Regions from separate parts of the Homo sapiens genome. Here region 1 is linked to region 2. Evidence: fine-mapped expression QTL. Tissue or cell type: B cells. Region 2 holds a variant in brackets; the other region holds the start of a gene. All regions are shown on one strand. Distances are from middle to middle. Region 1 holds the start of MGST2 (microsomal glutathione S-transferase 2). Region 2 overlaps MGST2 (microsomal glutathione S-transferase 2).

Region 1 (5,376 bases), 24 kb before region 2:
CTCTGCCATGTACTGAAGCCCAAAACTATTAAACTGAGTATACAAGAATGTTTTGGTGCTGCCCCAGCTTCTTGGCTCTACTTTCTTATCTAATCTTAGTTGTCAATGATTTCAAGAGCAAACAGCCAAGGAAGCCTGAAGACCAACAGAAACTTTGAGCAGACCTGGCTTGCAACTATTTATAAATTAATTTTGTTATTCCTTCTTTCCTGTATATGTGTAGTTCCATGAATTCTACTTTGAACTGGTTATAACATCTTACTGGTTCCCTCATGAATGAGTTACATAAAAATTTTGATATGTTTTCATTTTATGTTGTATGAAAGGCATGATTTTTGCCTCTGAAAGTATTTTTTAACATTAGGTACATTATATGCTAAGTACTTGTCTAGATACTTTATGTGTTTATTTTGCAGACACACAGAACACATTTGTATATGCCAGGTGCTGTTTTAAGTGCTCTATAAGTATTAACTAATTCAATCCTTAGAATAGGATTATGTCATTTAAACTTCTCTTCAGCTCTTATTAGCCCTATCTTATTAAATGGAGGCTCAGAGAGGCCCAAGGTTGTGTTATTAAATTGTAGGGTCTGTGTGAGGCTGAGGCAACTGCCCTCCCCAGAAGACACTGGGAGCTCCCTGCTAGGGACTAAATGTTTGTGTCCCCTCTGCAATTCATATGTTGAGACCCTAACCCCCAACGTGATGTTATCAGGCATTTGGCAGATAATTAGCTACAGGTGAGGTTATGAGCATAGGCCCCCATAATGGGATCTGTGCCCTTATAAGAAGTGACCAGGAAGCTTACTCTTTCTCTGTCTCCAACATGAAGGTGTCCTTCTGCAAACCAGGAAGAGGGCCCTCACCAGGAACTGATTGGCCAGCACTGTCATCTTGGACTTCCCAGCCTTCAGGACTGTGACGAATAAATTGCTATTGTAAGCCACCCAGTCTATGGTATCTTTGTTATAGCAGCTTGAGCCAAGATATACCCTCTAATGGTGCTGTAGGATGGGGTGAGGAAAGGCCCCCAGCTCTGGTTTTTGGGAAGCTGCATCTTTATTTTTATTATTTGTTTGAGACAGGGTCTCACTTTGTCACCCAGGCTGAAGTGCAGTGGAACGACCTTGGCTCACTGCAGTCTCAGGCTCCTGGGTTCAAGCAATCCCCTTGCCTCAGCCCCCTAAGTAGCTGGGACTACAGGCACGTGCCACCATGCCCTGCTAATTTTTGTATTTCTTTAAGAGATGGGGTTTTGCCATGTTACCCAGGCTGGTCTCGAACTCCTGAGCTCAAACCATCTGCCCATTTCAGCCTCCCAAACTGTTGGGATTACAGGCATGAGCCATCCTTCCAGGCCAGAATCTGCATCTCTAAAGAGCAGATTCTCCTGCCTCAGCCTCCTGCGTAGCTGGGACTACAGGTTCGTGCCACCATGCCCAGCTGATTTTTTGTATTTTTAGTAGAGAAGGGGTTTTACTGTGTTAGCCAGGATAGTCTTGATCTCCTGACCTCGTGATTCACCCTCCTTGGCCTCTTAAAGTGCTGGGATTACAAGTGTGAGCCATCGCGCCCGGCCGGTTTATTTTTTTAAAAATGGCTGGGCACAGTGACTTGTGGCTGTAGTTCTAGCTACTTGGGAGGCTGAGGCAGGAGGATTACTTAAGCCCAAGAGTTGGAGGCTGCAGTGAGCTATGATCGTGCCACCACACACTCCAGCCTGGGTGACAGATCAAGACCCTGTCTTAAAAAAAAAAAGTATGATTATTATCAGAGTCTCTAGGTGACAGTGAGAGGCAGCCTGGTGCAGGGGATAGGGCACAGTTGTAATCTGCTAGACTGGGTTCAAATCCTAAATCGGCCATTCAGAGCGTGAATACATTAGAACTGGCTTAAATTAGCATTTAAAATGTCAACAGGATTAAGTAAGTAGTTCCTTCTCACTTTTTCCACAGGAGGTGAGAAAGGTCTCAGCAAGGCCCTAGGAGGGAAGGGCGTGGGGATGAAAGGGATCCAGAGAGTCTGTGCATTGGCAGAGAAGATAGTGTAACTGGCACTGCGGCTGGAGGGCTGGTCCCACAGTGAGCTACAGCCCTGCCCGCTGGCCGTGGGAGAGGCTTAAAACAAACGCCGGAAGCAACTCCCAGCCCCATAAAGATCTGTGACCGGCAGCCCCAGACCTGCCTGCCTTCCTGACTTCTGTTCCAGAGCAAAGGTCATTCAGCCGCTTGAATCAGCCTTTTCCCCCCACCCGGTCCCCAACTTTGTTTACCCGATAAGGAAGGTCAGCATTCAAAGTCAAGAAGCGCCATTTATCTTCCCGTGCGCTCTACAAATAGTTCCGTGAGAAAGATGGCCGGGAACTCGATCCTGCTGGCTGCTGTCTCTATTCTCTCGGCCTGTCAGCAAAGTAAGAGGCATGGGAAGTTCGTGTGTGTGCGCGTGTGTGCGTGTGTGTGTGTGTGTGACAAGGCTTGCGGGAGAGAGAGGGAGGGAGGGAGATGGGTCCGGTGTTTTGTTTCCTACTTGCCCTTGCAGGTAGCTCTGGGTCCTCAGAGCACAGTCGCCTCAGGGTCACCCATGCCGCCTGCTACCCTCCTTCCCAGGGGCAAGCAGAGACTGAGAACATTCCAGAGATTAGTTCTCCCAACTGGAACGCTGTGGGGCCTCAGAGCTCAGCGATTCTGCATCATCTGTGATTACGACCCACAGCCCGTTCAAACGAGCGTTAGTAGCCTGCTAACCTGCAGGAAGTGGTGTGAATATTAATTACAAGTGTTCCAAAGGAAACGTGCCTGCTTCTAAACCTGGTTGTGATTTCTTGAACGTTGATGTTTTAATTAATGTGTTTTCTTAAATAAACTGCCTATGGTGGTATGATTATCAGATTGAAAAAAACTTCCTTCAGAAATATTAGCTTTAGATTAAGTAATTAGCTCTAAATTTTAAAACAGCTTCCCACTAGGATTATTCAATATCTCGACTGCCTGGTTAAATAGAGGGCTTTTACTCCATGGGAGTCACATTTGCTCAATTCATATTATCTTACCTACAATGTCAGCTGGGGAAAGGGGTCCGAGTGCAAGAGTGCAAGACTTCTTACCAAGCATGCATATTTCTTTATATTTCCAAGTATGCCTGTACCAGGAAATAGGGCCAAGCCGTAGACTGCTCAGGTTACACAAACAGCCAGAAGCAGGAAGGCCTCACAGCTGAGGATCCAGTCCAGGCCTCCGTGCATGCTCAATGTCTTGCCTAGCCAGTCTGTTTTGAGATTGTATGAAGATCTTGAACCTTCAGACTCACGTTTTGTGGTTTGATTCACACAATCTGTTGTGGAGAAGAGCAGGATATTTGTTTCTAATTAAAGAAGCACTTAGATCTGTTAAAAGGAAAACCCTAGACAAATTACATTTAACTGAGTTTAATTGAGCAAAGAACGATTCACAGTTGGGCATGGGGAACCGGAATAGGTTCAGAGAGACTCTGGGGCTGCCACGTGGTAGAAGAAGATTTATGGACAGAAAAAGGAAAGCGACTCCCAGAAAACGGAAGCATATAGTTCACGATGTACGGAGAAACCTTTAGGCTGAACTTAAAATATGTCAGAAGGCAGCTTTAGGCTAAACCTAATTTAGCAGGTCTAAGGCTCACTGTTGGTAGCATCCTGACTCACAGGTGCTACCAAACCTGCATGCGCCTTTATCCTAGGCCTGCAGGTCCACAGATGTCCCAAAGCTGACAGAGGTGCTCATCCTCCCTGTTTGCTGCTTGTGCAGGGGGCTGTGTGAACTGGGGCCAGAATGTTAGGGGGCTGGATGGAGTGGGGGTAGGGGTGGGGAGAGAGGAGAGGAGACTGGGTGAATGATGATTAATGGTGGACAGGGAATGTTTAATGACAAGGTGTTAGGGCCGGGCACGGTGGCTCACCCCTGTAATCCGAGTACTTTGGGAGGCCAAGGCAGGTGGATCACGAGGTCAAGAGATCGAGACCATCCTGGCCAACATGGTGAAACTCCGTCTCTACTTAAAATACACAAATTTGCTGGACATGGTGGCACGCTCCTGTAGTCCCAGCTACTAGGGAGGCTGAGGCAGGAGAATCGCTTGAACCTGGGAGGGGGAGGTTGCAGTGGACTGAGATCACAGCACTACACTCCAGCCTGGCAACAGAGCGAGACTCCATCTCAAAGAAAAAAAAAAGATGTTGATGAAGAGTTGAACTTTGTAAAATAATTGAAAAGCTGTATTCTGAGCCAAACATGAGGGACGAGTGGCCGGTGACACAGCCCAAGGAGATTCTAAGAACATCTGCCCAAAGGGGTCTGGCTACAGATTGGTTTTATACATTTTAGGGAGACATAAGACATCAACCAATTCATGTAAGATGTACATTAGTTTGGTCCCAAAAGGCGGGACAACTGGAAGTGGGGCATGGGCTTCCAGGTCATAGGTGGATTTAAAGATTTTCTGATTGGCAATTGATTAAAAGAGTTTATCTACAGACCTCAAATCCATAGAAGGGAGTGCCTGGGTTAAGATAAGGGGTTGTGGAGGCCAAGGTTCTTACTATGCAAATGAAGCTTCCAGGTAGCAGCGTTTGGAGAGAATAGATTGTAAATGTTTCTTATGAGACTTGAAAAGGTGCCAGACTCTGTTAATTCTCTCCTGGATCAGAGAAAAGACCTGGCAAGGGAAAGGGATTTTCTACAGAATGTAGACTTTCCCCACAAGAGACAACTTTGCAGGACCATTTCAAAATATGACAAAGAAATATATTTTAGGGTAAAATACTTCAATTTCTTTCAAGGCCTGCTATCTGTCATGTGATGCTATACTGGAGTCAGGCTGGAATTTGGTGTCTTATTTCTACAAAAAGTCTTAAGTGTTAGATTTTTTAAAGGGAAGGTGGGGTTCAAGAAAGACACAGAGAGAGAGAGAGAGAGAGGAGGGGGAGGGGGTAGAGGGGGAGAGGGAGAGAGAGAGAGGCTTTACAACAACACAGGTTTATTACAAAAACCTGTGGAGGTGGGGGACCAGCTTAATGCCAGAGCCCGCCATTGCTTACAGGCTGGGGTATGTACAGGTATGGGCAGGAGGGTTTTGGGCAGTATGGCTTGCTGCCCTGGAGGATATTGATAAGATGTTCTTATGTTCAGGTGGTTTGGCCAGGGATATTCCTTGGGCTCTGTCAGGATTTGATAGGGATATTTCTTCAGTTGGGTCTTTGCTTGGCAGGGTATGATAAAGATGTTCCTGTGTCTTGTGGTCAGGTGGCTAGGCAGGATTTCTCAGGGCCCGAACCCCCATGGAATGTTTCACTTTGACAAAGGCCTGTGAAATGGCAGGGGGCTTACAAAATGGTGTAGTTTGG
Region 2 (5,376 bases):
TCACTGATCCTAAAGGACTGTTTCTTGTTGGAAGGTCATCTCAGGGTGGGTATCTATTTGTGACCAGAGCTGATATGGAGTCCAGCCTTTCTGAGTTACTAGCCCTGGGCTCCTTAAAATCTCCATTCACTTCCTCTTCCCTTCCTTACAGGAGAGGACTTACAGATGACAGTCTCTAGAGTCTTGCCGTCTTTTGCCAGAATACATTTTTTAAAATTGTGAAAATAGCAACTATAATTTCACCAAGGACCATTCCTTTACGTTATTACTGAATTTAGAAAATTCTATCTCATCTAATCTGAGCACCTTGATCCCTTTAGAGTAAAGTCATTTTATAAAATCTAAAAAGTAGATCCAAGTAATAAATTGATTTTCTTGCAATTTAAATACATTTCCTCTGATTCTACCTTCACTGGAAGGGGAGAATAGCTGCTGACCTCACTCCTTTTCATGTGCTGAAAGACCATTATTAAGCATCTTTCATCTTCTGGATTTTGAGGCTAGGGAGCACTAATTCTTCAGCTTTTTTTCTCCAACCATTTAGAAATTTTGGTTCTCTTTAGACAAAAATTTTTAATATTATTTCTAAACCTGGAGTCTAGATGTATATCTAGTATACTAATAATGGTTTCTTTGGTGCTGGTTAAGACAGAAGAATTGCTTCTTAGTTCTTGTGAATGCACTCCTATTTGCTTAATGCTGAATTATTCAGTTCCTGTTCCAAAATTAACCTGCCACAAGGCACAGGTAAGCCTGATCATCGTGAATCTCGGTACCCTTTAGAAATATTAGCCTCTTCTCATTCTACTGTGATTCTGTATTTTTTTTTTTTACATTTTATTAACTTTTTAATGTCATTTTGAATTCTGATTCTGAAATTTGGAAATTAAAACTAGTGACCTTAATGCATGTCTAAAAACTATGGAGAAAAAGAAAATTTACAAGAATAGTGATTTTTCAGGTATTGTGCAACTATAAGATTACAGTAATGTGGGCAACTGGCTTTTGTAATAAGTGGAAAAAAAAGAGACAGTAAACATATTCCTGTTTTCTTACAAGTGTAACCATCATGGACAATAGCAGAAAGCACTAGATGCCCTTATCCACTGAATTATTATAAAGGGCTGGGGGCTGGGCGCAGTGGCCCGTGCCTGTAATCACAGCACTTTGGGAGGCCAAGGTGGGTGGATCACTTGAGGTCAGGAGTTCAGGACCAGCCTGGCCAACGTGATGAAACCTCGTCTCTACTAAAAATTACAAAAATTAGCTGGGCGTGGTGGCACATGCCTGTAATCCCAGCTACTTGGGAGCTGAGGCAGGAGAATCATTTGAACCCAGGAGGCGGAGGTTGCAGTGAGCTGAGATCACACCACTGCACTCCAGCCTGGGTGACAGAGTGAGACGCCATCTCAAAAAAAAAAAAAAAAAAAAAAGGGATCTCCCAAAATGACAGAGTGACTCTGTGTGATGAGCTCCTCAAACTCCAGTGTCCTTACCAATACCAAGCAGCATCTGTCACATAATCCGGGAGATTCTCCAGGTGGTCAGGGGACAAGAGGGAGCTGGGAGGTGGAGGAACTGCAAATCTCCTTTCCCTGCATGCTCTTTGTGTTCCCTACAAGCAGCACCACTGAAGGGCAGTGGTGGGACTCATGCTCTCCTGCCACCAGCCGCCACCTCCCTATTGTGTCCCACTCAGAGTTACTTGACAAGGAGCAATTTAGACAGTTACACGTCTTTATAAAAAGATTAACTCCAGCAACCTCTCATCCCCAAGCCTTTTCTGAGCATATTAACCTGTTGCTCTGATCCCAGTCAGTGTAATCATCCAAAAGACCGCCCAGGGTCCAAAGTCAGAAGACCAAGGCCGGGTCATCCATTCAGAGTGCAAATGGCTCATGGCAGTGTACAGCCCACTGGTTCAGGATGAGTCACCTAAACAAGAAGAGAAAAAATCAGAAGCAAACAGAAAACCTGCAAGAAGCAAACTTCCTTTGAATTGCTTTGTCTGTTTTTATTTAGAAAAAGATCTACTGTGAACCTGGCATTAGAAATGGCTCATGAGGTTTTCCTTAGGAGAATGTTTCATATTTTCTGAACAAAGTTGTTGCAAGCAAAGTTGCATATTGTGTTCGTTGGACACGGTCAAATAGAGAAATATTCATAAAAAGTTTTAGGCCAGAAGTCTCCCAAGTGATGTGCCCACATTGAAGGAATACACTAAGTAATCCACTGTGAGGGTGAGGAAAATATTGGAGCATCTGTTTATACTTATTCTTAAAATCCTATCCTTTAATTAAAAAAAATTTTTTTTGAGACAGAGCCTTGCTCT[G/C]TTGCCCAGGCTGGAGTGCAGTGGTGCGATCTTGGCTCACTGCAGCCTCCGCCTCCTGGGTTCAAGCGATTCTTCTGCCTCAGCCTCCTGAGTAGCTGGGACTACAGGCACGCACCACCATGCTCAGTTAATTTTTGTATTTGTAATAGAGTCAGGGTTTCACCATATTGTCCAGGCTGGTCTTGAACTCCTGACCTCAAGTGATCCACCTGCCTCGGCCTCCCAAACTGCTAGGATTACAGGTGTGAGCCACCGCTCCTGGCCTTAAATTTTTTTAAAAAAATTTTATTTTTTTATAGAGATGAGGTCTCACTGTGTTGCCCAGGCTGGTCTCAAACTCCTGGCTCAAATGATCCTTCTGTCTCTGCCTCCCAAAGGCCCGGGATTACAGGTGTGAACCAGCTTCCTGATCCCCCATCCTTTAATTTTTATGATGTTTGTTTTATAATGAATATGATATTCTTTTCCAGTTGAATGTATTAGCTGTGCTAATGGATAAATCCCAGATTCTCCATGGTTTAACACAGTGGAAGTTCATGTCTTGCTCAAGTCTGGTCCTATGTGGGAGCTCCTGGGTGTGGGCCTCCTCTGCTGCAGGAGGATGTGTGCATATTTTTATGGGGCTGTGCAACTGTTAGAGCTATGCAATCAGAAAAGTTTGGAGACTAGTGTTGAAGGAACTGCCACATTTGGAGCTGCCAGGCCACAGTTTGATTCTTTTTCCCACCCCCAAATAACATAAACTTTGTAGTATACTTATTGACTGAGACAAGGCCCAAATAGCACTTAGTTTGGGCCATCCTTACTGCTCCTGGTTACCAGATCCAGGTGGGAATGTGCAGTAGTCCTGAGCCCCCAGGGCCCAGGCTCCATGGTACTGGGATGAACAACAAGGGGTCTCAGCAGCTTTAACTACTCAATCTCCACAGTGCCCACCAGACTCTTTCCAGTTCTTCTGGGTCTTACCCAGTTTTAGCACTTAAAGCTCCATGTCCCCCTAAATTCCTCAGTCCCAGGCAAACCAAGATAGCGTTCATGGGAAGCTTCAATATCAAAGGAGCAGGGGATTGTTCAAAGAGGGCTCTCGCCAGGGAATGAGTATACACAGCCTGTTTTCCCATGGACAGCCTGTTTTTCCAGTATGGACATGCAGAGAGGAGACAGTGGTCATAATCAACTCTACCCCCTGTTCTCACAGGAAGGGAAGATTGACAGCTACTGCAGGCTGTTTGCTGTTCCATTTGGGAAATTTTCCTGAGGATCCCCTGTAATAAGAGGATAGAATATATCTGCCTTCATGACTTAAAAGAGGCTATAAATTATTTTCATGTCAATGAAACTGTAATTAGCCACTGACAGGATTGTCAAGAAGTAATTTTCAGAGTTTGGTCCCCTTGAGTTAAACATGCCTGCTGACAGCTTACTGAGGACGTGTTATTGTGGGACACCATCCAGGCCTGGAGGGACCCAGAATCAGGCAGAAGGACATGGTCACATGGTGGAGGGGCTGGAGGAGGTGACAATTAGCAGGTAGAATGGGATTCCAGGTATTTCAAGGCCAAACCAATACTTGGTGCTTTCACCAGGCAGGCAGCAGGGAAGACTGTCAGCAACAAACAGGGCACCCCACTGGCAGTCAGATGATGATGATGATGATGATGATGATGATGATTATTATTATTATTATTTGAGACGGAATCTCACTCTGTCACCCAGGCTGGAGTGCAGTGGCGTGATCTCGGCTCACTGCAAGCTCCGCCTCCTGGGCTCACACCATTCTCCTGCCTTAGTCTCCCGAGTAACTGGGACTACAGGCACCCGCCACCACGCCCGGCTAATTTTTTATATTTTTTAAGTAGAGACGGGGTTTCACCGTGTTAGCCAGGACGGTCTCGATCTCCTGACCTCGTGATTTGCCCACCTCGGCCTCCCAAAGTGCTGGGATTACAGGCATGAGCCACTGCGCCCAGCAATTATTTTCAATCTCTGAGAGATGATAGCAAGAAATGGGCAAAGTCTCATTTCCAAGGGACTAAGGCTTGAGGCAGGTCAGCAAAAGAGGGACCAGGGTGAAAGTACAATGAGCACAGCTGGGACGTGAGGTTGGGGTGAGCTCAGCAGTGACCAGCCACTTGTAGGGGACAAAGGGCCTATTTCTTGAGAAAGAAAGGTACAGAGATATGGTGCTGAGCTGCTCCAGTACTCCAGGTGTTGCCATCCTGTGAGCACAAACGCAGCTGCAATCACATCCTTGCCTAAATCTCAGTGGCTTCCAGCCACCTGCTGCTCACCCAGGATCCCAGCACCCCGGTTCCCCATCTTCCCAATTCCTTCTGGGAATACAGGGGATGTGCCCAGGGACACAGCTCCTGCTGGCAAGCAGCTGAAGCAAGGGGCTATGCCACTGTCCTGCTCCCCAGTCCTCTGTGAGTACAATACCCTCCCCAGGTTCTGGAGTGCCTTCCACCACCACCAGGAGCTGCTCTGGGTCTGTGGCAGAGGGAGATTAAGGGTGTGACTCTCCCCGACTTTGTCTCTTCTGTCATCTGAGGCATGGCACCACTTGTATCTGGAATCTCACCAAGTTTTTCATGAGGACGATCCGTCAGCATCTGTTCTGGTCTCTGGTTTCCCATTAGGTGTGAAACTAGTTCCCTAGCTTGTGAGGGCAGCAGGGGAACTCCAAAACATCCCCTCTATTTTTATTTCCTTTCTCCTTGCTCAAAGGCCTTCTTCCTCTTTCAGATAAGAGACACAAAAGCACACATGCCTATCAATTTATGTGGACAGACACCCAAAGGGCTTCTGCCCTCTGCAGTGCAGTTTGGACTTAGGACATTCTTACACAATATTATCTCTTTGTCCCCAGATGCCAAGCCAAGGCCACTAGAAAAACCTCTAAATAATTAGACTTTTATGAAGGCTAACCTGGGCTATTTTTGAAGGTGCTTTTAAAACAATCTTATCACACCTAATTTTGAATAAAGATATGTTGTGGAAAAACTTGATGCTTACATTTGGAATAATTTAAGGTGTATTACAAA

The links. PIP is the estimated chance that this variant, and not a neighbour inherited with it, causes the effect. A credible set is the group of variants that fine-mapping cannot tell apart.
Region 1: it holds the start of MGST2, and the variant in region 2 is the best candidate, but not a certain one, in a credible set for the expression of MGST2 in B cells (Fairfax 2012, PIP 0.62).

Annotation. Positions count from the first base shown.
Region 1 is chr4:139,663,666-139,669,041 of GRCh38, forward strand. It overlaps MGST2 (microsomal glutathione S-transferase 2), which reads left to right and starts at 2,154. Exons shown (of 5, transcript NM_002413.5): 1 at 2,154-2,412. The coding sequence starts at 2,355. RefSeq lists enhancers at 1,713-2,912, 2,209-2,378.
Region 2 is chr4:139,687,696-139,693,071 of GRCh38, forward strand. All of the region lies in intron 2 of MGST2 (microsomal glutathione S-transferase 2), which reads left to right. Among named protein-coding and RNA genes, the nearest start is that of MGST2, 25 kb to the left of the region's middle. RefSeq lists an enhancer at 4,907-4,956. The variant G/C (reference allele first, on the strand shown) is at 2,333.